Linked DNA regions of Homo sapiens. The protein of the gene in region 7 purifies or fractionates together with the protein of the main gene of each other region. This does not show direct contact. Each region holds a gene or a part of one and is shown on either strand. Other genes may lie near its edges.

Region 1 (3,500 bases), on a different chromosome or scaffold from region 7:
TCACACAAGACCCATGCCCAAGTCACACAAAACACGCAAACACACAGATGACTGATGAAAATCAACATTTTACCAAGCTAAATGCAAATAAGGCCCTTAAAGAAACTTTACTACTAGGCAATATACTATATCAAATATTAAATAAACAAAAATAAATAAAATAAGTAAAAATAACACCTTTGGGGGGCTGAGCATTTGGAATGTTTCCGGAGTAGGGGAGTCTTTTTCCCTTTGTAAAGTCTAAAATGAAGAGAAGCATTGGGTAAGTTGACCTGTACACCCGCTCTCTCAGGTATTCTTTGGTAAATAAAAATAATAGCAGCTGTTGATCAAAAGCTAACATTCTGAAATGTCCTTCATAGACAACATGCAGAACAAGCAAAGCTTATAGCACACACAAAGAAACATCTCCAGCTCTTTCAGCCCTTCTTTTCTTTTCTTTTTGGGAGGTGTGGTGGGGTCAAACATAAGTCTAAGCTCATTCCTTAGCAGAACTTTCATTAGACACATAAGACAACGGAAAAAATGAGTAAGAGAGGCCATTCCATGATGCGCTGTTGAGTCAAATTAGCCAAACATGAGCACAAAATACTATCACAAGTACTGAGGATATTCAATAATAATGCACACAGGTTTGTAGAGAAAACAAACATATTCAAACAATACATGCTTTGTTAAACTAAGAAAAAAATACTTGCCAACTTTTCTGACTTTTCATCAAATCACAATTGCTTATATAAATTTGGAAATCGGAAATAAAATAGCCCCATCATTTCTAAAACCAAAAATCATATCAATATATTCTAAGCCATGTTTATGCATTTTGAAAAATTATTTTCTAGTCATTTTAAGTTTTATAATAAAAGTACATTTGTAGTGCAGCAAGGTATCATTAGTATTTTATTTAGAGTAAATACACTATGTATCTCAACACTTCTACTAGTTTGGTGGTAATAATCCTGCTTTCTAAGAATGTGAAGTTAATAATAATTTTAAAATTTTACCTAGTTAGAGAAAATGTGGACATTAATTTTAGAACAAAAATATTCTTAAATCTGGAAATATTGTTTCATCGAAGCTTATCTAATTAATTTTAATTAGGTCAAGTTTTCACTATAGAATTTCAAATTAAAGATGTATTCTTAAAAGAGCAAAGCTGATTTGTAACAAATACATCTTTATTACTGAAATCCAACTCGGTTGCCTATGAATTAGCCCGAGCACAAAAACTAACATTTTTCATACCATTTCTATAAGTAAATGTTAAATTATCTCCAAAATTACTCCCAAATTTTTTAACACAGAACCAAAAAAATTGGCTAGTACTTACAAATTAGCAAGACAAAGGGCATCAAAACACAGTGACACACCAACTGGTAAAGCAAGCCATCTTATAAGAACATTCAAGCAAGCCATCACTGCATATCTTACCATTTCTCTAGCATTTCGGCAAAGAGCCATATCAGGATCCAGTTTATCACGAACAAAATAGTTCCTTTCATTCATCTCTGATCGGAGTGTCTTTCCTTTAATTAAGTACACATTAGCCATATATGGGACATTCCATACTCCTCTGAAAGTAAAGAGAAGACATTCTTATATACCACAAATACAAACAATTTTAAGTTTCATTTTTACCTTTTTAAAATAAATGCTTTGTGTTTAGATTTTGTATACATAAATTATTGAATCAACATACAAATATATTCAATGATATATATATAAGATTACATTGTATACACTATATTTAATGAGATTTAGGAGATAAACCACTGCCCCTTTGGATACATTTCAATTTTGGGTTGGTATCTGTTTGGCATTTGTATTATAGCTATCATATCTCAATCAGTTGTTACAATTAGACTATTATAATCTATTGTATAGACGGTGTTTCTATTTAAAATTAAAGAATTTGATAGCATGAATCATAACATACAACCAGTGGTGCACTAGACCCAGCTCATACTGGCTCCCCAAAGTTAACTTTTTCTGCCAAGTCCATGTTCAGTAATTTCACATTGGAAACTTGAAATCAGCCATGGTAGAAGTATTTACACCAAACAAATGGGCAAGCACTTTAAATCAGGGAATCCTCCACCTCCAAAAGCCAGTTGTTACACATTTACCAAAATACCACTGAATATAGCCTAAAATTCTCCAAAATTATATTCTCTTACCATTCATTAAGCCATCTTAAATATTTTATAGAAAAAGGAAAACATGAAGAAATACAGCTGGGAGCACATGAACGTTGCATCCTTTCCCACATCTATATTCTCACTCTGAACATGACTGATTTCATAAAAACTGCAAAACAAGTTTTGCCCCTAAGACTGTGCGCCTTTCTTTTAGAGAACATCAAGGCAAGATCTTGACCAAGAAATGCAGTTAGATATTAACGGAAATATGATATTATGTCTTACTAGACTAGCCTCAAAGAAAAATGCCTTAAGGAGTACAGCAGTCCCCGCCTTATGTGAGGGTGATACATTCCATGACCCCAGTGGATGCTTGAAAGCAGATAGTAACAAACGCTACACATACACTACGTTTTTTCCTACACATATATACTTATAATAAAGTTTAATTTATACATAAAGTACAGTAAGACTAACAACAATAATAGAACAACTATAACAATATGCTGTAATAAAAGTTACATGAATGTTTACACTTTCTCTATCTCAACATATCTTCGTATTTTCAATCCACAGTAGACTTGAAACCATGGAAAGCAAAACCATAGATAAAGGGGAATTACTGTATACAACGTGTCAGCTAAATTCAGAAATTAATCTCTGGGGAATTATTCAGTGTTTCAACTTATACACACACACATACACACACACACACAGTTGCTCCTTCGTGTAGCTTTTGGACATGAAGTGTATTCCAGATCAAAAGCTTCTGCCATATTTTTTTCCTTATACTTTAGACAAGAATGACAGGAGGTTGGACAGAAAATCACCAATGCCTAAAGCAACTTGAAACAAATTTTCCATTCTACTTTCACAAACCCTCATTTGTGATGTGCCCAAAGATACAATCAGGTATATTGTCTATACAACTCACCCAGAGTCAATACAACTGCACAGAAACAACAGAATACGATCTTAATAGTCTTTTCTCCTCCACTGTGCATTTTAATTGCAGCTAACAAAAACCTTTATTGTATTTACATCATTCAGATTGAAGCTTTCCACACCAATTACTATTTCCACAAGCAACACATCTTTTTACCACTCAACTGTTTGAACAGAAACGTGTGCCTTTTTTTTTCTAAATGTAAGGGCACATCCTTTTAGTCCTGAGAGTATACTGCCCCTTTTTAATCAGGCTGACATGTTTGAGAACTAAGGCAAAGCATGTAATGTCTTAGTCACTCTGGTCCATCATATGTATGAAAAAAAGAATGACATTCTTCTCCAATATTACCTTAGCAAAACTATTTCAATTGTGATTATTTTTAGTAATCAACCATTGTCTCTGAAATAAATATA
Region 2 (3,500 bases), on a different chromosome or scaffold from region 7:
TACCAGAAACTCTAAGAAATGAAAGGGCAACTGGGAATATTGGAATTAAAAGTAAGGAAAGTTATTAAATTATAAAATTAGAATTGGCAAGAATGATAAAGAAAAAGCTTTTATTTCATAGGTAAGGTTTCGTAGGTTGAATGATCCAAAGCAATGAGGCTATTTACACTGTGTGGCAAGAGTTCAAATCTTTTCCTAGCTGAAATTTCATATACTACAGACCAACCAGCAACTGACTGAATCCCTGCAGAAAACCCCTTTATCCTAATTTCCTTCCCTTTGCTTCAAATACCCACCACACAATGTTCTGATCTTCATTTGGTCTTTTGAATCTATTTCTCTATTGAAAATAGAGCCTTCATTCAGTTTTTGAACAGGAGGGCGCTCTGGGGTTTTAGTTCAAATATCTCACTTGGGGAATGGCAGGAGGAGAAGGTTTGGTTGCTGTCTTCAACTACTTTTCAGGGCTTTCAAGTGGAAGAGGAATTTGAAATTCTGTATTATCTCCCAGAGGCAGAACAAAGACCATTTGTATAGAATTACAGGGAGTAAATTTCAGTTCTTCATGTTAGAACTGCTTAACATTAAAATGGGTTTCCTTCATAGTTAAATTCCTTAAAGTGAAGATGGCCTTGGAGAGGTAAGCTGCACAGAGAGTGCATGTGCCAGATAAAGATTACAGCAAACTTGTTAAGATTCCTTTTAATTCAATGATACTAATAATCCCAAACCAAATAAGGTGTTATAGTGAAGTTTAAGGGTTCTTGGTTTGATTTAAATTCACTTAGCTTTTGAGACATCTGCAAACAAGTTGTTCATATTAATGCCAACTTCACATGAAAGACATCGACATGCTTACCAGAGAAGGTGAGAGAAGAGACTTTGAGGGAGCTGCTTACCTGCTTCCTGTAATAACTGAAAAATACAACTGGTGATTTTATTTGAGATTGCAGCTTTTCCTTCCAGGTGGTTTTTTCTAGCTGCATTTCCTGCTGTAATCTGGTCCTTGGACTGCAGGAGGACTTTTCCTGGACTGTCTAACAATTCGTAGACTTCTTTTGTTTTACCCTCATATAATTTTTTACCAATGTTCAGTACTGTGGAAATAAAATGGAAATAGACCAAAATTCAGAAACTTCCTGAATGCTGAAGACTAAATCACCTAGAACAATTAATCTGTAAATATACAGTGATTAAGTAATATTAATAAAAATTAAATCATCTGTATAAAACCATATACTCTACAATGTATTTCTCATACCATCACATTTGATTCACATGATCTTGTGAAGAATTTTAATTACATAAATAATTGTAGAAATTAGTAAAGCAGAAATCAAAAGGGTTGAGGGTCATGCAGTTAGGAAATATAAGAGGTAGATAAAATCCTAACTCCTCTGACATCAAATCCTGTGCTCTTTCCACTATTAACCTGCCTCTCATAGCAGAACTGAACTAGAATTAAAATTAATTAAGACCCACTTAAAGTAATGTAACTATACTAGTATTTTCACAGACACACTCACAGTATAGTATCTAAACTATCTTGCAGGAAAAAATATGCGATTTTTGCTGATATTTGCTTTTTTGTAGGCAAAATGGGAACATTCAGCCAGATGAGTTTCTTGATTTCAAGTTAATATTCAAGAGGAGGCATGCCATCCCATTGAAGTTAGCACATTTGGAAGCATCCCTCTCTATTTCTTAATCCTGTCCCTGCCCCCATTAATCCTTTCTCTTCACTAACAGTTGTAAGAAATTGTGAGGAAGTGAGCACAAAGGAATCCAATTTTGATGCTGGTCACAAAACCTAAGAAGTACACAAAAGGATGATTTAGAGAAAGAGTAAAGATAACAGATGTTTAGGAACTTAAAATTTCGAAAGAGAGAAATCAACCCTCATACTTCCACAACACTCTCAGTATCAACATTTTCCCGGTGTATCCATGTGCCAAGGGATGTACCAGTAAATAATAATTCCTGCTCTCAAGAGACCTGAGTCTGAGGGGAGCTGATATTAAATAAGACATCATAATAATAGAATGCAATAAATACAGACTATGGGACTAGTCTAGACATTAGAAAAAGAAGTCTACAAGAAAGTGACAGGTTGAAATCTGAAGAATCATCGAAATTTAGCCAAAGGAGAGAAAGGGGTAGGTAGTGTTGATGAATAAATACAAGGTGGTCAAAGTGGATTGCAGAACTTCAGTCTGGTTGGAGCTGGAGCTCTGGGTATATGTACATTGCTGTTGGGCAGGGGAAGGGGTGGGGGCTGCAGCTAAAGAATGGCAGGAGACAAGACTTAAGAGTTGGACAGGGGCCACATCACCAGCTAGTGGAGGTAACCATTAAACAAAGTAGTTGTAATTTAGTTAACAGTTGCCACTGTAGGGCACCTAATTTAGAGGATGAATCTCTACCCTCCCTAATGTAATGTCTAGACTCATTAACATGGTTTAAAAGTCCCTTTAAGATACAGCCCTGGCTTACTGCTCCAAACTCTTATTTGTCTATTTCCTATCTAGAACTCCAACATCTTTAATTCTTATACAATCTTCCCCTAGCTTCTGACAATCTCTTCTTTCCTAGGCCTGGAAAACTTCCCTTCCATTTTGCTACACATCCTTCTTGTTTCACAAGCCATGCTGATTGAGTTTAGACTTTAACCCAAGAAGAGCTATAAGGCTTTTAAGTGCTAAAGCAAAACGCTATTTGGAAAGATCATTACGGCTTCTGTATGGACAATGAAGGGAGGAAGGGGTGAGTGAACAAAAACTAGAGCTTGGAAGACCAGTTAGGATGCTGTTGCAGTAACTTGAACAAGAAACGTCTGGCCAGGTGCAGTGGCTCACATCTGTAATCTCAGCACTTTAGGAAGACAAGGAGGGCAGATTGCTTTAGCTCAGGAGTTCAAGACCAGCCTGGGCAACAGGGCAAAATCCCATCTCTACCAAAAAAACAAAAATTAGCCCAGCATGGTGGTGCATGCCTGTAGTCTCAGCTACTTGGGGAGGTCGAGGCCGCAGTGGGCCAAGATTTGCACTATTTCACTCAAGCCTGGGTGATAGAGTGAGACCCTGTCTCAATAAAAAAAAAGGAAAAGAAAAAGAAATGTCTTGGTCTAAGGAAAGAGTAGTGGGCAAAGATGCAAGATATTTAAGATAGTAGCTTTGAGAATTCATCATGGAGGATAAAAGAGAGGGAAGGGTAAAGAACAGTGGGCCGGGAACAGTGGCTCATGCCTGTAATCCCAGCACTTTGGGAGGCCGAGGCGGGCGGATCACTTGAGGTTAGGAGTTCAAGACCAGGCTGACCAACATGGTAAAATCCTGTCTCTACTAAAATTACAAAAATTAGCCGGATGTGTTGGTGCACGCCTGTAATCCTTGCTACTTGGGAGGCTGAGGCAGGAAAATCGCTTGAACCTGAAAGGCGGAGGTTGCAGTGAGCTGAGATGGCGCCACTGCACTCCAGCCTGGGCAAGAGAGGGAGACTCC
Region 3 (3,500 bases), on a different chromosome or scaffold from region 7:
TGGGATTACAGGCTGCACCACCACACCCCGCTAATTTTGTGTTTTTAGTAGAGACGGGGTTTCTCCATGTTGGTCAGGCTGGTCTCAAACTCCCAACTTCAGGTGATCCACCTACCTTGGCCTCCCGAAGTGCCGCCTTTACAGGCATGAGCCACTGTGCCTGGCCTACCTTTTTAACCATTTTTAAGTGTACACTTCAGTGGCTTTAACTACATTCACAGTGTTGCACAACCATCACCACTATTCATTTCCAGAACTTTTCATCATCCCAAACAGAAACTCTGTACCCATTAAATACTAAGTCCCCATTCCCTGGTAGCCTCCATTCTACTTTGTCTCTATGAATTGCCTATTCTTGGGACTTCATACAAATAGAATCATAGCGTTTGTCTGTGTCTGGCTTATTTTCCTCAGCATACCTTGTCCAAGGCTCCCTCATGTCATAGCACGTACCAGAATTTATTCTTTTTTTTTTTTTGAGACGGAATCTCACTCTGTCGCACAGGCTGGAGTGCAGTGGCACGATCTCTGCTCACTGTAAGCTCCGCCCCCTGGGTTCACGCCATTCCCCTGCCTCAGCCTCCCGAGTAGCTGGGACTACAGGCGCCCTCCACCACGCCCGGCTAATTTTTTGTATTTTTAGTAGAGATGGGGTTTCACCGTGTTAGCCAGGGTGGTCTCGATCTCCTGACCTCGTGATCCGCCCGCCTCGGCCTCCCAAAGTGCTGGGATTACAGGCATGAGCCACTGCGCCTGGCTGCAGAATTTATTCTTTTTTTAAGGCCAAATAATATTCCATTGTATGTGTATACCTGGCTGGAGTTTTGTTGTTTTTTTTTTTTGAGATAAAGTCACCCAGGCTGGAGTGCAGTGGCACAATCTTGGCTCACTGCAGCCCCCGCCTCCCAGGTTCAAGTGATTCTCGTGCCTCAGCTCCCAAGTAACTGGGATTACAGGTGCCCACCACCACACCCAGCTAATTTTTGTGTTTTTAGTAGAGATGGGGTTTTTCCATGTTGCCCAGGCGGGTCTCGAACTCCTGGCCTCAAGTGTTCTGCCCACCTTGGCCTCCCAAAATGCTGAGATTACAAGCATGAACCACTGCGCCTGGCCTGGCTGGAGATGTTAATTTTATTTTTTTTATTATTATTTTTTGAGATGGAGTTTCGCTCCTGTTGCCGAGGCTGGAGTGCGATGGTGTGATCTCGGCTCACGGCAACCTCTGCCTCCTGGATTCTGGCAATTCTCCTGTCTCAGCCTCCTGAGTAGCTGGGATTATAGACGCTCGCCACCACACCCAGCTAATTTTTGTATTTTTAGTAGAGATGGGGTTTTATTATATTAGTTAGGCTGGTCTCGAACTCCTGACCTCAGGTGATCCGCCCACCTCAGCTTCCCAAAGTGCTGGGATTGCAGACGTGAGCCACCGCACCCGGCCTGGAATATTTTTAAATAGATTATCTTACATCATATCATTTCACTTGTAAAAAGAGTAATGCTTACTAATCAGGACTTAAAACCTCACACTACTATTAATTCCTTAATATTATGTAGTATCTAGTCTTTGTCCATATTTCTCTGATTATTTTTTAAAATGGCTTTTTTTTTTTTTGAGACGGAGTTTTGCTCTTGTTACCCAGGCGGGAGTGCAATGGCGCGATCTCGGCTCACCACAACCTCCGCCTCCCGGGTTCAAGCAATTCTCCTGCCTCAGCCTCCCTAGTAGCTGAGATTACAGGCATGCTCCACCATGCCCAGCTGATTTTGTATTTTAGACGGGGTTTCTCCATGTTGGTCAGGCTGGTCTCAAACTCCCGACCTCAGGTGATCCGCCCGCCTTGGCCTCCCAAAGTGCTGGGATTACAGGCATCAGCCACCACGCCTGGCCAAAAATGGCTTTTTACACTTGGTTTATTCTAATTAGGATCCAAACAAGATCCACACCACATTTGGTCAGAGTGCTGAAGCCTCTTTCCTTCTCTATGCTTTTGATAATTGAGGCATTTATCTCTGGTGTGTGTTATTGAAATCATTGCTTGTAACCAAGTATTTGGAAGTGATTTTCCAAGAAAATTACTATTCAAAGAACAACGCGCACCAGACATTAACCATGGGTTGTGAGCTCTGTCTGGTAAAGCAGTATGTTACAACGTGGTGAGCTGCTTATGGAGTGACAGCAGAATTTTAGTTTAATGAATTAGATTTTCTGAATTATTTTTTGGAAAGAATGGCAGCTTAATTATTTGAGTCTTTTTATTAGACATATGCATATGAACTGGAATTTTTTTAAAAAGAGTAATCTTAATTTCCCTTTTTTGTTCTTTTTGATCTATAGGCGCCTTGGTGCTGAATTGGGGAAGTCTGTTGTATATCAAGAGACCAATGGAGGTAAGTTAAAATTATTTCTTTTTTTTAAAATTATTTTTTATTTATTTAGTTTTTTTGAGACAGAGCCTCACTCTGTCGCCCAGGCTGGAGTGCAGTGGCATGATCTTGGCTCACTGCAACCTCTGCCTCCCAGGTTCAAGCAATTCTCCTGCCTCAGCCTGCTGAGTAGCTGGGATTACAGACGCCCGCCACCACACCCGGCTAATTTTTGTATTTTTAGTAGAGATGGGGTTTCACCCTGTTGGCCAGGCTGGTCTCAAACTCCTGACCTCAGGGGACCCTATTGCCTCGGCCTCCCAAAGTGCTAGGATTACAGGCATGACCACTGTGCCCAGCCTTTATTTATTTATTTATTTATTTATTTATTTTTATTAAGATGGGGTCTCACTATGTTGGCCAGGCTGGTCTTGAACTTCTGAGCTCAAGCAGTCTTCCCACCGCAGCTTCCCAAAGTGCTGGGATTACAGGCGTGAGCCACCGCACTCGGCTTCCACCACGTTATTTCTAAAATGCAAATATTTTTTCTTACTACTGCTTCCTTACTCCTACCCTGTAGGCTGGGGTCCAGTCTTTTTAGCAATCACATGGGGCCCTTTGGGAATCCAGATTCTACCCCTTTACCTGCCTCATCTTTGATCCACCCATTACCACATCTTGTGTGCTCTGACTTTGGAATACATCTTATATCTGACCCTTTCTCACAACCTCTGCTGCTCCCACTTAAGTCCAGCCTGCCGTTTGCTGCTTGCTAGACACCTTCCAAAACAGACGCCATGGCCTCCCCGTGGCCACTCCTGCCCTGCCACGGTTTTCTTCACACAGTAGCCAGCAGTCTTTTTAAAACAAGTAGATGAAACCCTTCCCAACCTTAAATCTTCCAGTGGCTTTCCTGTCACTGCTAGAATAAATTCCAGACTCTTCAGCGAGTAAGAAATGAAATCCAGAGTCCTGCAAGTCCTGGCCCCTTGGCTCCCTGACCTCCTGTCTCTCTCTTTCCCCTCACTCTGTCTGCTTTCTTTTTTTTTTTTTTTTTTTTTTTTTTTTGACGGAGTCTTGCTCTGTCACCCAGGCTGGAGTGCAGTGGCATGATCTTGGCTCACTGCAACCTCCAC
Region 4 (3,500 bases), on a different chromosome or scaffold from region 7:
GCAGAAAAAGCTTGTGACTCCTACTCTGTTTGTTGAAGTTGACCCCCAAGAACTGAAGATCAAAGGGACTTCTCTTCTTGAAAAACTCACCCCAACCACAACTGATGCCCCAAGGCTGAACCACATGCAATCACAATCAACAAACATTTCGATGAACAAATCCTCTAGGAATAAAGTCTGCCTGAGAAAGGGCCCAGCACCTCAGCGCTCAGGGAGTGATGGCGGCAAGTGAGAAGGAGCCAGCCATGGCAGCATCTCAAGAACCCGGCTCTCAAAGGCGGGCCAGGGCTGGACGCCCATCTGCGGCCCTCAGAACGTCTGATCCCCTGGGAGAGAAGGGGGCACCAGCTGGTCAGGACGCTATTCCAAAAAAAGCTTCCAGCTTAGCTTGCCTAACTAGAAAGGAACTGGGAGAAGAGCAGGACTCCACAGAGAATAGTGGAGAGAGAACTCATGTCCAAGAAACCATTCTTACTAGGTATCATGTGATATTTTTCCTAACTTAGCTAATTTTACTCTTAAAAATATTTATCTGGGCATTTCTCCAGAGAGGATATACAAAAGGCCAATAAGCATGTGAAAAGACACTCAACATCGCTCATCATTAGGATGCAAATCAAACTCACAAGGAGATGCCACCTCACACTCACTAGGGTGGCTACTGTACAAAAAAGAAAAGTAGTGGTGTTGGTGAGGATGTCAAGAAACTGAAACCCTTGTGCATCATTAGTGGGAATGCAAGATGGTACAAGCACTGTGAAAAATAGTGCTTTAAGTAAAATAATATTGAAACATAACGTGTTACTAAGCTAACATGAACATTTCTACCTAACACTCCTCAAAATCATATTTTTGTGGCTTCATTAACCAGAATTCAATAGTTCAGCCACCAGCAGTTAACAGGCACAACTCCCAGCAAAAAATTAAAATAAATTTTTCCCTCAAATGAAAAATAGTATTACCACATGACCCAGCAATTCTACAGCTGGGCATATACCCAAAAGAACTGAAAGCAGAGACTCGAACAGATATGTGTACACCCCTGTTCATAGCAGCAGGGGGCAAAGTGACCCCAATGCCCATGGATGGATGGATGAGTAAATAAAATGTAGCCAATCCATATGTATAACAGAATATTATTCAGCCTTAGACAGGAAGGAAATTCTGATACATACTACAACATGGATAAACCTTGAGGACATCAGGCTAAGTGAAATAAACTAGTCACAAAGGGACAGATACTATATGATCCCACTCACATGAGACACCTAGAGTAGTTAAATTCATAGAAACTGAAAGCAGAACGACGGCTGCCAGGAGCTGGAGCAGGGGAGAATGGAGAGTTATTGTTAATAGGTACAGAGCTGCAGTCTGGGAAGATTTTTTAAAAAGCCCTGGAGATGCATGGTGGTGACAGTTGCAAAACAATGTGAATGTACTTAATACCACTGGGCCATAGACTTTAAAATAAAATCATACATTTTATTGAAATTTTATTCACGTTTTATAACCAAAAATGTGTTGTTTTTGAAAAGCATTTAACACATTTGAAACACATTTCAAAATGTAATAAAAACCATTTCAGCAAATACTTTAATATATATTACTAAGCTAAAATGAGAATTTCTACCTAACACTCATCTGAATCATATTTTTGTGCCTCCAATAACCAGAGTTTGATAGTTCAGCCATCAGCAGTTAGTTGGCACATCTCCCAGCAAAAACACTGTAATTTTGTTGACTATTTAATAAAGACATAAGAAGGGTGATTTCCTCATTTGTTATTACTGCAAAGGCTCTTGAAGAAATTTATACCAGCATCAGATTTATCAATTTGATTTTATCTTTTAGTAAATTCTCTCTCCTGGTTGTTCTTGCTACTGTAATTACCCTTGCATTACCAGTCAACCTCTATCACCACCCCCTTAATGTTCTGAAAATCCAGAACTGTTGTGCCACATGCTCTGTGATTAAATCACCAGAATCCCTGGGATTACTGGCAATGATGGCAGCAGCGGCCAGTCTGGAGCAGCCGCTGTGAGGACACCAGCTGCAGAGGGCAAAGTGCAGCCAGGGCTGCGCACTCCATGGTGCCCGCGGGGGCCAGAAACAGGCAGGAGCCCCAACTTCTACAGAGTTATCAGGGCAGGAGCCCCATGCTCCCAGACACAGCTGCAGCCGTGCAGCCACAGCTCTGGACCAGGGCATCCCTGTGCTCTTGGGGGCCGGCGAAGGCCCACTGCCCCACCAGCAGGCTCAAGAAGTGCCTGCTCCTGCTCCCTGGCCTCTCCCGGCTCCCGGCGCCTGATGCAGTGTGGAGCAAAGTTGTAGCCAAGCCCAGGTACTGTTGCCACCCAGCCGGGTATGCATGCACACAGGGTGGTTCTGACATGCCAGCGCCCCTGGTAACCCCAACCTCCAGCTCGGCCCCCTCTGGACTTTGGATGCCAACAAGCACAGGAGGGAGGCCAGGGGGCTGAGAGCAGCTTAACAGGGGCCTGCAGGCACCTCTTGGCACAAATACCTTGGGCGCCATGGATGACATGTTGACAGCTGCGGGAGACAGGTTCCTAGGTGGGAAGGGACAGACAGGTCCCTGGTGAAACCCCAGCTTCAAGCCAGGGATGGCCTGAAGCCTGGGAGCCGCTGGGCTGCCAGTTCTAGGTGGAGTCTGCAGCCTGGGATGAAAACTTACGGTGCTTTTTCCAGGCCCACTCATGGCTGCGCATGGGCCAATCAGCACACTTCCTCCCTTCTGAGCCCAGAAAAACTCTGGACTCAGCCAGACTCAGAAAGACATGGGGACTACCAGCTGTTGGAAGGAGCAACCCTCTGGGGGTCTCCTCCACTAGTCAGGATGACCTGCCTGTGGAAAGGAGCTATGCACTACAGGTCTCCTCTCCAGTGAGAGCTGGACACTCATTACGTCGACCTGCCTGCAGAAAAAGGCTACTCACTTCAGGTCTCCTGAGAACTGTTCTGTTGCTCAATGAAGTTCCCCTGTACCTTGCTCACCCTCCAGTTGTCTCCATACCTCATTCCTCTTGGATGTGGGACAAGAACTTGGGACCCAAGGAATGGCCAGACTGAAAGAGCTGTAACACAAACAGGGGTGATCCTCCCCCTCCCCTGCTCACTACATTGTGGGCGACGAGAAGGAGAGAAGAGCTGCGGCCCTTCGGGGAGCCCAGACCTAGGGGCTCCCTAAGCCAGGGCTGTGACATCCTCTTTGGGGCTCTGCGGTTCCTGGTGTCTCCAAGTTTCCGGGTGCCACCGTGTTCCCAGTGCCCACAATGGAAGCGACCTGCAGTATGCCTGGTCCAGCCACAGCCTTGCACGGAGCCAGTGCCTGTGCCTGGAGCTGCCTGCCCCACCACAGTCGGCATGCCCGGCTGTGCACAGTGGCCGGATGACCCTGAACTCACTCACGAACTCCTCGCCACTCCGTGCCTGGCTCGCCCTTGGCAGGCATGAGATCCAGGCCAGTAGCACAAGCCGAG
Region 5 (3,500 bases), about 51 Mb from region 7:
TAATAGCAGTAAGTGGGGCAAGAGCCACCCTGGGAGTGAGGGGTATTCGGGTAGGGTGGACCGGAGTCTCCTCATGGTGTCACTTGCCCTCCACGCAGAGGTGGCTGTGGGACAGGAACAAGCATTCTCTGTGAACACACGAGGGGCTGGCGGTCAGGGCCAACTGGATGTGCGGATGACTTCGCCCTCTCGCCGGCCCATCCCCTGCAAGCTGGAGCCAGGCGGTGGAGCGGAAGCCCAGGCTGTGCGCTACATGCCCCCGGAGGAGGGGCCCTACAAGGTGGATATCACCTACGATGGTCACCCGGTGCCTGGCAGCCCGTTTGCTGTGGAGGGTGTCCTGCCCCCTGATCCCTCCAAGGTGAGGAGATAGGAGCTGGTTGGGGCTGGGAGTTGGGGACTTGTTGGGAAGATAGATGAGTCATAGGGGGCAGAGGCCAGAGGGACTTATGTGCCTGGAGTGGGCACAGCCAAGGGTGTGGGGCTGAGGCCAGCCCCACCCCACCACCTGCCTTGGAGACAACTTAGCTATTAAGAGCCTGGCCTTGGAGTCACACCTGGGCTTGAATCCCAGGTCCACTAACTGGGGCAAATTGCTTCATCTCGCTGCCTCAATGTCATCACCTGGGATTGTTATAAGCACTCAGTCCACAGTAGCAGCCACAGTTGGAGGTGATGAGTTGGGTGGGGGCCATGAAGGCTGGGATGAGGAGGCCAGGTGCAGGGAACCCACAACCTGCCTCTTCCCCTAGGTCTGTGCTTATGGCCCGGGTCTCAAGGGTGGACTGGTAGGCACCCCCGCGCCATTCTCCATCGACACCAAGGGGGCTGGCACAGGTGGCCTGGGGCTGACCGTAGAGGGCCCCTGCGAGGCCAAGATCGAGTGCCAGGACAATGGTGATGGCTCATGTGCTGTCAGCTACCTGCCCACGGAGCCTGGCGAGTACACCATCAACATCCTGTTTGCTGAGGCCCACATCCCTGGCTCGCCCTTCAAAGCCACCATTCGGCCTGTGTTTGACCCGAGCAAGGTGCGGGCCAGTGGACCGGGCCTGGAGCGCGGCAAGGTCGGTGAGGCAGCCACCTTCACTGTGGACTGCTCAGAGGCAGGCGAGGCGGAGCTGACCATTGAGATCCTGTCGGATGCCGGGGTCAAGGCCGAGGTGCTGATCCACAACAACGCGGATGGCACCTACCACATCACCTACAGCCCTGCCTTCCCTGGCACCTACACCATTACCATCAAGTATGGCGGGCATCCCGTGCCCAAATTCCCCACCCGTGTCCATGTGCAGCCTGCGGTCGATACCAGTGGCGTCAAGGTCTCAGGGCCTGGTGTTGAGCCACACGGTGAGTGGACAGGAGGAGCCAAGAAAGGTCAAGTGGCAGGTGCAGGAGCTGGGTAGTCCGTGGGAGGGAGGGAAGAAGAGCTGAGAGCTGGAAGAGCAACCTGGGGTGAAGGGAGGGCTCTCGGAGCAGCCCCAGAGTCCTTACTGGCCCAGAAACCCCAGAGAAGGAGTGGAGGGGAAGACCGGGGGTGGAGATTGGCCTCTGCTCTTGTGGCAAAACTGCACCTGCCTCTGGGCGTTTTTCTGGAGAGATCTCTTCTTTCATGTGCTTAAGGGGTACCCTGATCCAAAAAGCTAAAACTCTGCTCTGGACGGGGGCACGGGGAAAGCTTTGGGGTAGAGGATGACAAGAGTCAGAAGACAGTAAGTGGGAATGGGCCATCTGCCAGGGGCCAGACCCTGGCTAGGCATGGGCCACGGCAGAGGGATGCAAGACCCAGGCCCACAGCCTGGTGGGTGACTCAAGTGAACAGAGAATGTCACTACATGGAGAAGGGAGTGAAGGCAGAGGCTGGAGCTCACAGAGGTGCAGGGGAGGGTGTGGGGCCCAGGCTCCGATTAGAGGAGCAGCCTGGGAGTTGGGGAGTGGGAGAGGAGGGGGAGAGGAGGGTGAGAGGAGGGGAAGAGGAGGGGAAGAGGAGAGGGAGAGGAGAGGGAAAGGAGGGGGAGAGGAGAGGGAGCATCTGTGTGAAGGCTGCCCCCACCCCTGCTGAACACGCCACCCCTGGGCTCCAGGTGTCCTGCGGGAGGTGACCACTGAGTTCACTGTGGATGCAAGATCCCTAACAGCCACAGGCGGCAACCACGTGACGGCTCGTGTGCTCAACCCCTCGGGGGCCAAGACAGACACCTATGTGACAGACAATGGGGACGGCACCTACCGAGTGCAGTACACCGCCTACGAGGAGGGTGAGGGCCGGTGGGCCAGGCTAGTGGGCAGGGCTGGGCAAGTGGGCAGGGCCGGGATCTGATGATATTGCCCTCGGGGCAGGAGGGGTGGTGGGGGCGCACACTCCCTGATTGATGCCCCTGTGGCTGGCTTCCAGGCGTGCATCTGGTGGAGGTCCTGTATGATGAGGTCGCTGTGCCCAAGAGCCCCTTCCGAGTGGGCGTGACCGAGGGCTGTGATCCCACCCGCGTCCGAGCCTTCGGGCCAGGCCTGGAGGGTGGCTTGGTCAACAAGGCCAACCGATTCACTGTGGAGACCAGGTATCCTCCCCCTTTGCTAGCCTAAATCTGTGACCACCCTTTCCCAGCCCCTGGCCCTCCTCGCTCATCCCTCTGCCTGGGCCTCAGCCCCACCCCATCCTCTCTCAGGGGTGAGGCAGGAGCAGACCCCCTCCAGGACCCCAGATTGGCCCCTGTAGCTCGTTTCTCCTCAGCTGGGTCCCCAGCGGCCTGCCCTCTTTCCTCCCTGTCCCCCCATTCAGCTACTCCCTCATCCTCACTCACTGGTCTTATGAAGCTGATGGGGGGATGTTATCTCTCAGGGGAGCGGGCACCGGGGGCCTTGGCCTAGCCATCGAGGGTCCCTCGGAAGCCAAGATGTCCTGCAAGGACAACAAGGATGGTAGCTGCACCGTGGAGTACATCCCCTTCACTCCTGGAGACTATGACGTCAACATCACCTTCGGGGGGCGGCCCATCCCAGGTGTGCAGAGAGAGTGGTCGGGGTCTCAGGGAAGACAAGGGAGGGTGCAGGATGCTCGCCCCACAAGGGGGAAACTGGAAGGAAGTTGGGTAAGAATGTTCATAGAGAGGACAGCCTAGAGTGGGTTGGGGCCGGAGCCCGGCCAGAGGGAGGACGTGGAGGAGGCAGGCAATGAGGGTTGATGTGACAGCCCCCCTAGTCAATCACAGGAACACACTCTGGCCTCCTAGCCCCTTGTCTGGAGCTCAAGACCTTGGCTTTGCAGGTCCACCACTCACTGTGTGTCCAGAAACTCAGACACAGTCCACTCCTCTTGGCGGCTCAGGCCAGCCTTGGGCCTTCTTGCACGCATCGTCTGCAGAACTCCCCTGCCCTCTGCAGACCCAGCTGCCCGGGCAGGTCATGTCTTCAAATATTGTATGACTTGGGACTGCTGAAATTGGAAATTTTTTCCCTTATCTAATTTCCCATCTTTTTATTATTTCAGCCACAGTGTCAGA
Region 6 (3,500 bases), on a different chromosome or scaffold from region 7:
ATTTCCCACCAAGATTCAATAGTCATTTGCATTGTCTCATATTTGGTTTCTCTATATTAATATATAATTCTTGTGAAAGAATTTGAAAATAAGTTCCAGACATCATGATTCTTTACCACTAAATATATCAGCCACATCTCCTAAAAATAAGAGATTTCCCCACATGATCCTCTAATGCATTAGTGTACTCAGGAAAAGCAATAATTTCCTAATATCACCTAATATGTGGCCCATAATGAAATTTCCTTCTCTCCAATTTTAGCTATTTTCTTTTTAAAAAAATTTCCCTCCAAATCAGGGTCAAACTAAGTTTCTCTCATTACACTGGAAAGAGTTTAGATTTTATTTTAGATGTGAGGGAAGTCATTGGAGGGCACTGAGCAGAAAGACACGTTCTAAGTTTATTTTTTTTTTTGGAGACAGAGTCTCGCTCTGTCGCCCAGGGTGGAGTGCAGTGCCGTGATCTTGGCTCACTGCAGCCTCCACCTCTCAGGTTGAAGGGATTTTCGTGCCTCATCCTCCCGAGTAGTTGGGATTATAGGCACATGCCACCACGCCTGGCTAATTTTTGTATTTTTTTTTTTTTTAGTAGAGACGGGGTTTTGCCATGCTGGCCAGGCCGGCCTTGAACTCCTGGCCTCAAGTGATCCACCCACCACGGCCTCTCAAAGTGCTGGGATTACAGGTATGAGCCACTGCGCCTGGCGCCTGGTCTCTCTCTCTTTTTTTTCTTTTCCCTAAGTTTCAAATATCACTCCAACTACCAAGAGAACACTATTGTGAGGTAAGAGTTGAGGCAGGAAGCCCAATAGGGAGACTGAGGCAGTGGTCAGGAGATGAGAGTGCTGTGGCACAGGTTTGCAGCGCTGGAGATGGTGCCCAGAGGTCAGATTTCAGGTCTATTTAGGAGGAGGTGCTGACAAGAATGGATGGCTGTGGGTGAAGAAGAGAGGAATCCAGGGTGATCCAAACTGGGCCTGAACAATGTACTGAGATGGGGAAGAGACTGTCAATGCTTGGACCTGACCGTGTTGTTGAAAATGCACTTAAATACACGAGTCAGCATCCCAGGGGAGAGAGAGGTCCTACTGGAGATGTGGGTTTGGGAGGCATTAGCTTTTGGGTAAATTTTAACTTATGGGAATGGGCCGGACGCAGTGGCTCATGCCTGTAAACCCAGCACTTTGGGACGCCAAGGCAGGTGGATCACTTGAGGTCAGGAGTTTGAAACCAGCCAGGCCAACATGGTGAAGTCCTGTCTCTACTAAAAATACAAAAAAATTAGCTGGGCATGGTGGCAGGCACCTATAATCCCAGGAACTCGGGTGGCTGAGGCAGGAGAATCGCTTGAACCTGGGAAGTGGAGGTTGCAGTGAGCCGAGATTGCGCCACTGCACTCTAGCCTGGGTGACAGAGCAAGACTGTGACTCAAAAAAAAAAAAAAAAAAAGAAAAAAGAAAAGAAAAAAAAATGGGGTGGATAAGATCACCGAGGGATAGAGCATAGTTAGAGAAAAGACAACCAGGAAGAGAGCCCTGGGGGCACTCCACATTTAGAGATCTGGCAGATGAAGAACCAACCAAGGAGACTAGAAAGAAGTGCTAGTAAGGCAGGACAGCGTGAAATATCAAAGCCTAGAACAGAAAGTGCCTGGAGCAGAGGGGAATGTTCAATCATGCCAAATGCTACTGATAGGCACAGGTGAGGGGAGAGAGGGAACACAAGCTTTGTAAGATGGCGACCTTAATAAAGCAATTTCAGTAGAAAAGAACAGAGAAATAGGGCAGTAGATGGAATGAGGACATGGGATCAGGAGAGGATTTTGGCTTTTTTATTTTTTTAAAAGATGGGTGATAGTAAAACATGATTGCATGCCTTATGGCAAATAAGCTAGCAGAGTGGAGAAATTAATGAGGAGAGAGGCTCTAATTGTAGGAATGTAGTCCTAGGGGAAGCAAGAGGGCCCAGGATCTTCAGCATAAATGGAAAGGTTGCCCTTAGACAGGCAAAGAAGCAGAGTATGTGGATGTAGATGCAGGGTGGCTAAAAGGTTTGGTGGTGGGGCCAAGCCTAGGGTCTCACGCCTGTAATCCCAGCACTTTGGGAGGCCAAGGCGCGAGGATCGCTGAATCTCAGGAGTTGGAGACCAGACAGGGCAACATAGTCAGACCTCATCTCTACTAAAATTCAAAAAAACACTGGCCAGGCAGGGTGGTCATGCCTGTAGTCCTAGCTACTCAGGGGGCTGCGGTGGGAGGATTGCTTGAGCCCGGGAGGTTGAGGCTGCAGTGAGTCCTGATTGTGCCACTGCACTCCAGAGAACTCCAGGCTGGCTGACAGAGCAAGACCCTGTCTCAAAAAAAAAAAAAAAAAAAAAAAAAGAAAAGGAAAGGAAAAAAAGGGGGGGATTTGGTGGTTGAACGATAAGGCAGTTTTCTGTTGATTGCATCTATTTTCCCATGACCTATGAGGTAAAGTCATCAAGGGAGGGAAGGGAACCAAGTTGAGTCAAGATGATAAAAAGTAATTATCCTCAAAAGTAGGAAAGTTCATGACTAAGAAGAAAATGGGCCAGGTGTGGTGGCACGTGCCTGTAATCCCAGCTACTTAGGAGGCTGAGGTGGGAGGATGTCTTGAACCTGAGAGGTTGAGGCTGCAGTGAGGCCTGATTGTGCCACTGCAGCCTAGGCAACAGAGCGAGACCTTATCTCAAAAAAAAAAAAAAAAAAAAACCAAAAGGAGGAGGATCAAATGCCCATATTAAGGTTTAGCGTTGCATATTTAAAATAAGTTCGCTCAACAAAGTTAGGTGTTTTCTCCAACTAGAGTTAGCTGCAGAGGTATAGGCAAAGATTAAGCACATAGCTGGGTTTAATCAGGCTTGGGTTTTGCCAGGTGAGTATAGGGAGGTGCAAGGAAGTGGAAATAGTGCCAGTGTTTGTAATTTAAGCTCGCAAGAAAGGAAGTGAGGGCATGAGTGACAACAGGACCAGTCGCCCCACTAACATTAATAACTGGCTCCTTCAAATTGCTATACCATTAAGAGAAGTCTCTCAAAAGAGGGAATATTATCTCCTATATATTTATTATTATTATTATTATTATTATTATTTTTAGACGGAGTTTCGCTCTTGTTGCCCAGGCTGGAGTGCAATGGTGTGATCTTGGCTCACTGCAGCGTCTGCCTCCCTGGGTTCAAGCAATTCTCCTCTCCTGCCTCAGCCTCCCGAGTAGCTGGGATTACAGGTGCCCCCTGCCACGCCTGGCTAAATTTTGTATTTTTAGTATAGATGGGGTTTTGCCATGCTGGCCAGTCTGGTCTCAAACTCCTGACCTCAGGTGAGACACCTGCCTTGGCCTCCCAAATGCTGGGATTACAGGTGCAAGCCACCATGCCCGGCCATAAATTTATTTTTAATAATATCATACTAGTAAAATTATCAAGATTTGATTAAAATAAAACATTACAATTTAAATAAATTTTACTAGTACAAATATAC
Region 7 (3,500 bases):
AGCCTTCCTATACAAATGGATTTATGATTGAACAGGAAATTATTTTAACTAACTTATAAGAAGTCAAAGTGAAAGCAATTTCTTTATCTTTTAATTCTATAATTAAACATATTGTTTATTTTTAACTGGTCAATCCTACTTAATTAAATGGTCAACTAACCACTGAATTAACCACAGAAAAAAATAGTTTTAATGAACCAAGTTGTTAACTGATTCCCACATCTCCACCAGCAAGTTACTTTCCTGGCCCATGAATAAAAAGTAGCCCTTTTACTTCGTTAATTATGAGCATTACGGTCAAACCAAGTGAATAAGAAAACTATCTTCAATGCTTCAACTCCACTGAAAAAATATTTTAACTATGTAAATAATAAAAAATAAATCTCTTAAGTTTGAAAAATCTCATTTACTTTTTATAACAAATGTGAATGCAGATAACAAGTCCCTTAGAGGAATAAATTGATAGCAGTCTTATGAAGTAAGTACTATGACTGTAAGGCCTTTAGAAGAATCTAATGTAAACTAAAAATTCAGAGTAGAAAAACTGTCTAAGGATTCAAGTAGCTTCTACTATGTAGAAACCCATACCTATATAATGAAATTCCAAAAATTAGGTTTCAAAATATCCTGTATCACCCATATTATAATGATACCTATATTCTTTTTTTTTTTTTAAAAGATAGGGTCTACTATGTCACCCAGGCTGGAGTGCAGTAGTGTAATTGGTGTCTACTGCAGCCTCAAAGTTCTGGGCTCAAGCAATCATCCTGCCTCGGCCTCCCAAAGCACTGAGCCACTATACCCGGTCATGACACTTATTGCAAACATTTATTATTTTCTTGACTAATTCAGTTTTGTGCTTTTCCTCTTAAAGGGGTATTTTCCATTACACTCCTAAATCCATAATACAAATTTAGCTTTGTTTTATGTATTACATATAATGTATACATATACATATATGTGCATATGTATTATGTATATTTAGCTTTGTATTATTTGTATGAGAATGACCAGATGACAGAAATAAGCCAAAATGTTAGATTAAGAAAAGTTGGTTATCTTAAACTGATTTCTCTTAGCTAAAATATATTATACATTAACCCCCCTTCTAGAATACAAAATTAACTGCCCCCCAAGAATAAACAAATCTCATGTTCATTCCCCCAAAGTCAAAGGAAGAGTTTACATGATTTCTTAACACATCCAAACGAGTAATTTTGCAAAACCTAACTGAACTTCAAATATTATTTGAATAAATGAAAAGATTTATATTGTGCAATTTAAAGTAGGTGCACCTATACTTGTCCTTTCACATTCAGAGGTAGCTTAACTAGGTCAGTAATCATTGAATTTTATGTAATCCTTATAATGAAGTAATCTACTATAAAACATAATAAAAATGTCTAGTAAATGTGTATCAATAGTTTTTATTACTTTACTACAAGAATGCTTGCTTCCGGCTTTAAATTTTTCAGTAGCTATAAATTATAAAATTTCATGATATGACAGGAAGTGGTGCAAACGTGGAAACTGATGTTCCCCAAGAATAAAAACAGCATTTAGTTTTTCATCAAACTAAAACACACTTTTTCATCTCAATGTAACAGCTCTGAGATTGGTATGTATCTTACCACCAATGGCTTCTTACAAATGACATTGTCCCCTTATAATTGGCAGTGATTTTTTTACTGTTAATATATATAATAATGGTGTGTCTTAGAATTGATGATATCTTAGATCAATAAGACCTACGTATGTACATCTTACATATATTAAAAAAAGAAAGTCATGTTGCCAGGCGTAGTGGCTCACGCCTGTAAGCCCAAGACTCTGGGAGAGCAAAGTGGGAGAATCACTTGAGGACAGGAGTTCGGATCAGCCTGGGCAACAGAGCAAGACTTGGTCTCTTAAAAAAAATTTTTTTTAATTAAAAAAAATTAGTTCAGTGTGGTAGCACATGCCTGTAGTCCTAGCTACTTGGGAAGCTGAGGCAGAAGGATCACGTCAGGCCAGGAGTTTGAGTTTACAGTAAGCTATGATTGTGCCACTGCACTCCAACCTGGGCATCAGAGCAATATCCTGTTTTTAAAAATCTCATGTCAGTGTTTATCAGGAATGAAAATTGCTTGGTCATTGTTTCAGGGAAATTGATTAAAAGAAAATACTACCATACTGACTTTAGAAAGTAGAGTATGATGAGGATCTGAGATTATATGCTCTAATCAGTGAACAGTAAAAAGAGTATGTTCTATAGCTTCCCACCATGTGAATACTATTTTCAAATAGATGATCCTGTGTTTTAATGCAACAATACTCTAAACGGTCTGTCAACCAAATGAGACCACATCAACTTACAAGGCCCTAGTCCCAAACATTGTATCAAGGCTAGGAGAAATTCAAGATTACTAACATATTAATGCAGAAATAAAACCTTGTGTAACATCAAACTTAAATAATGTATTTATAAACTTGGGAAATTCTTTTGTACCTGCAATGAATACAAATAGGAACATCTTCATGTTCTTGATATTTCCTCATTAAGCTTATCATGTCCAGAATAGAATCAAATGATGAAGGAACATCATGGTCTGGCCAGTTCACATAATGAAACTGATACAGCCTACGAGATTCCTTCAAGAAAAACAGAAAGTCAACAATTATGAAAATACTTTGCAAAGTTTAAAGTTGCACAGCTCATTTAAACTGCCATTTCTAAGAAATTTGTGTGGCATTTAGCACTGCTTTTAAAAAAACCCAAATAAATAATAGCCAACACTTATTGACTGTTAAACACATGCCAAATACCTAAGGGCTTCACATGTAACAATTTAATTTCCATGAGGAAAGTACTGTTAATACCATCCTCATTTTATAACTGAGATATACAGATAAAATAACTTGCCCAAACTTTCCTAAGAAGTGACAAGTGTGGGCTCTAAACCAGGCAGTTCTACTTCCAGAGCATGTACTGTAAACATAACACTATATATACTATTTAACTAATCTACACTATTAAATGGATGAGCAATATACCGTAAGCACCATGTTAGAGTAGGTTAGAGTAGTATTCATTGTAATCAGAAGACTAACAGAACATTAAACTGAAAAAGAATGGAGAGATGAATTTGTCCAATGCCAAACTCACTAGTCTTCTTACAGATTAGTGGTTCTCAATATACGGTCTGGGTACCCCCTCCCCTCAACCCTTTTGAGGGAGTCTATGAGCTTTAAATAATTCTCAGAATAATACTAAAATGTTACGTGCCTTATTCTTTAACAGCCAATACAATATATGCTTATGTATTCATGTTTTTTAAAAATTTCTCAGTTTTAATTTCAAATATAGTATATACTGAAAGATACAACCCCCAGAAACAAAAACTTTGGGATCCTCAATAACTTTGAAGAATGTAAAGGAGTACTGATGTCAAATGTTTTGAGAATGGTTATTGCAGGTGTTTAACAGAAAGAGCAATACTCGGAATCTAAGCAAACCATAC

Evidence for each region.
Region 1: the proteins of PTPN12 (region 7) and PLOD2 fractionate together in Homo sapiens (co-fractionation; one large-scale study listed by BioGRID). This does not show direct contact.
Region 2: the proteins of PTPN12 (region 7) and PAICS purify together in Homo sapiens (affinity purification with mass spectrometry, with the first as the bait; one large-scale study listed by BioGRID). This does not show direct contact.
Region 3: the proteins of PTPN12 (region 7) and PRPSAP1 purify together in Homo sapiens (affinity purification with mass spectrometry; one large-scale study listed by BioGRID and IntAct). This does not show direct contact.
Region 4: the proteins of PTPN12 (region 7) and ARHGAP10 purify together in Homo sapiens (affinity purification with mass spectrometry, with the first as the bait; one large-scale study listed by BioGRID). This does not show direct contact.
Region 5: the proteins of PTPN12 (region 7) and FLNC purify together in Homo sapiens (affinity purification with mass spectrometry, with the first as the bait; one large-scale study listed by BioGRID). This does not show direct contact.
Region 6: the proteins of PTPN12 (region 7) and NUSAP1 fractionate together in Homo sapiens (co-fractionation; one large-scale study listed by BioGRID). This does not show direct contact.

The regions. Positions count from the first base shown.
Region 1 is NC_000003.12:146,077,685-146,081,184, forward strand, and holds part of PLOD2 (procollagen-lysine,2-oxoglutarate 5-dioxygenase 2 isoform 1 precursor), read right to left. Parts: intron 1,574-3,500; coding exon 1,432-1,573; intron 241-1,431; coding exon 178-240; intron 1-177. UniProt on the Homo sapiens protein: Forms hydroxylysine residues in -Xaa-Lys-Gly- sequences in collagens. These hydroxylysines serve as sites of attachment for carbohydrate units and are essential for the stability of the intermolecular collagen cross-links.
Region 2 is NC_000004.12:56,439,260-56,442,759, reverse strand, and holds part of PAICS (bifunctional phosphoribosylaminoimidazole carboxylase/phosphoribosylaminoimidazole succinocarboxamide synthetase), read right to left. Parts: intron 1,098-3,500; coding exon 900-1,097; intron 1-899. UniProt on the Homo sapiens protein: Bifunctional phosphoribosylaminoimidazole carboxylase and phosphoribosylaminoimidazole succinocarboxamide synthetase catalyzing two reactions of the de novo purine biosynthetic pathway.
Region 3 is NC_000017.11:76,347,417-76,350,916, reverse strand, and holds part of PRPSAP1 (phosphoribosyl pyrophosphate synthase-associated protein 1), read left to right. Parts: intron 1-2,335; coding exon 2,336-2,388; intron 2,389-3,500. UniProt on the Homo sapiens protein: Seems to play a negative regulatory role in 5-phosphoribose 1-diphosphate synthesis.
Region 4 is NC_000004.12:147,861,088-147,864,587, reverse strand, and holds part of ARHGAP10 (rho GTPase-activating protein 10), read right to left. Parts: intron 1-3,500. UniProt on the Homo sapiens protein: GTPase-activating protein that catalyzes the conversion of active GTP-bound Rho GTPases to their inactive GDP-bound form, thus suppressing various Rho GTPase-mediated cellular processes. Also converts Cdc42 to an inactive GDP-bound state.
Region 5 is NC_000007.14:128,843,906-128,847,405, forward strand, and holds part of FLNC (filamin-C), read left to right. Parts: coding exon 1-8; intron 9-98; coding exon 99-361; intron 362-752; coding exon 753-1,350; intron 1,351-2,084; coding exon 2,085-2,258; intron 2,259-2,395; coding exon 2,396-2,558; intron 2,559-2,839; coding exon 2,840-3,000; intron 3,001-3,500.
Region 6 is NC_000015.10:41,335,881-41,339,380, reverse strand, and holds part of NUSAP1 (nucleolar and spindle-associated protein 1), read right to left. Parts: intron 1-3,500. UniProt on the Homo sapiens protein: Microtubule-associated protein with the capacity to bundle and stabilize microtubules. May associate with chromosomes and promote the organization of mitotic spindle microtubules around them.
Region 7 is NC_000007.14:77,599,795-77,603,294, reverse strand, and holds part of PTPN12 (tyrosine-protein phosphatase non-receptor type 12), read right to left. Parts: intron 2,632-3,500; coding exon 2,489-2,631; intron 1-2,488. UniProt on the Homo sapiens protein: Dephosphorylates a range of proteins, and thereby regulates cellular signaling cascades. Dephosphorylates cellular tyrosine kinases, such as ERBB2 and PTK2B/PYK2, and thereby regulates signaling via ERBB2 and PTK2B/PYK2.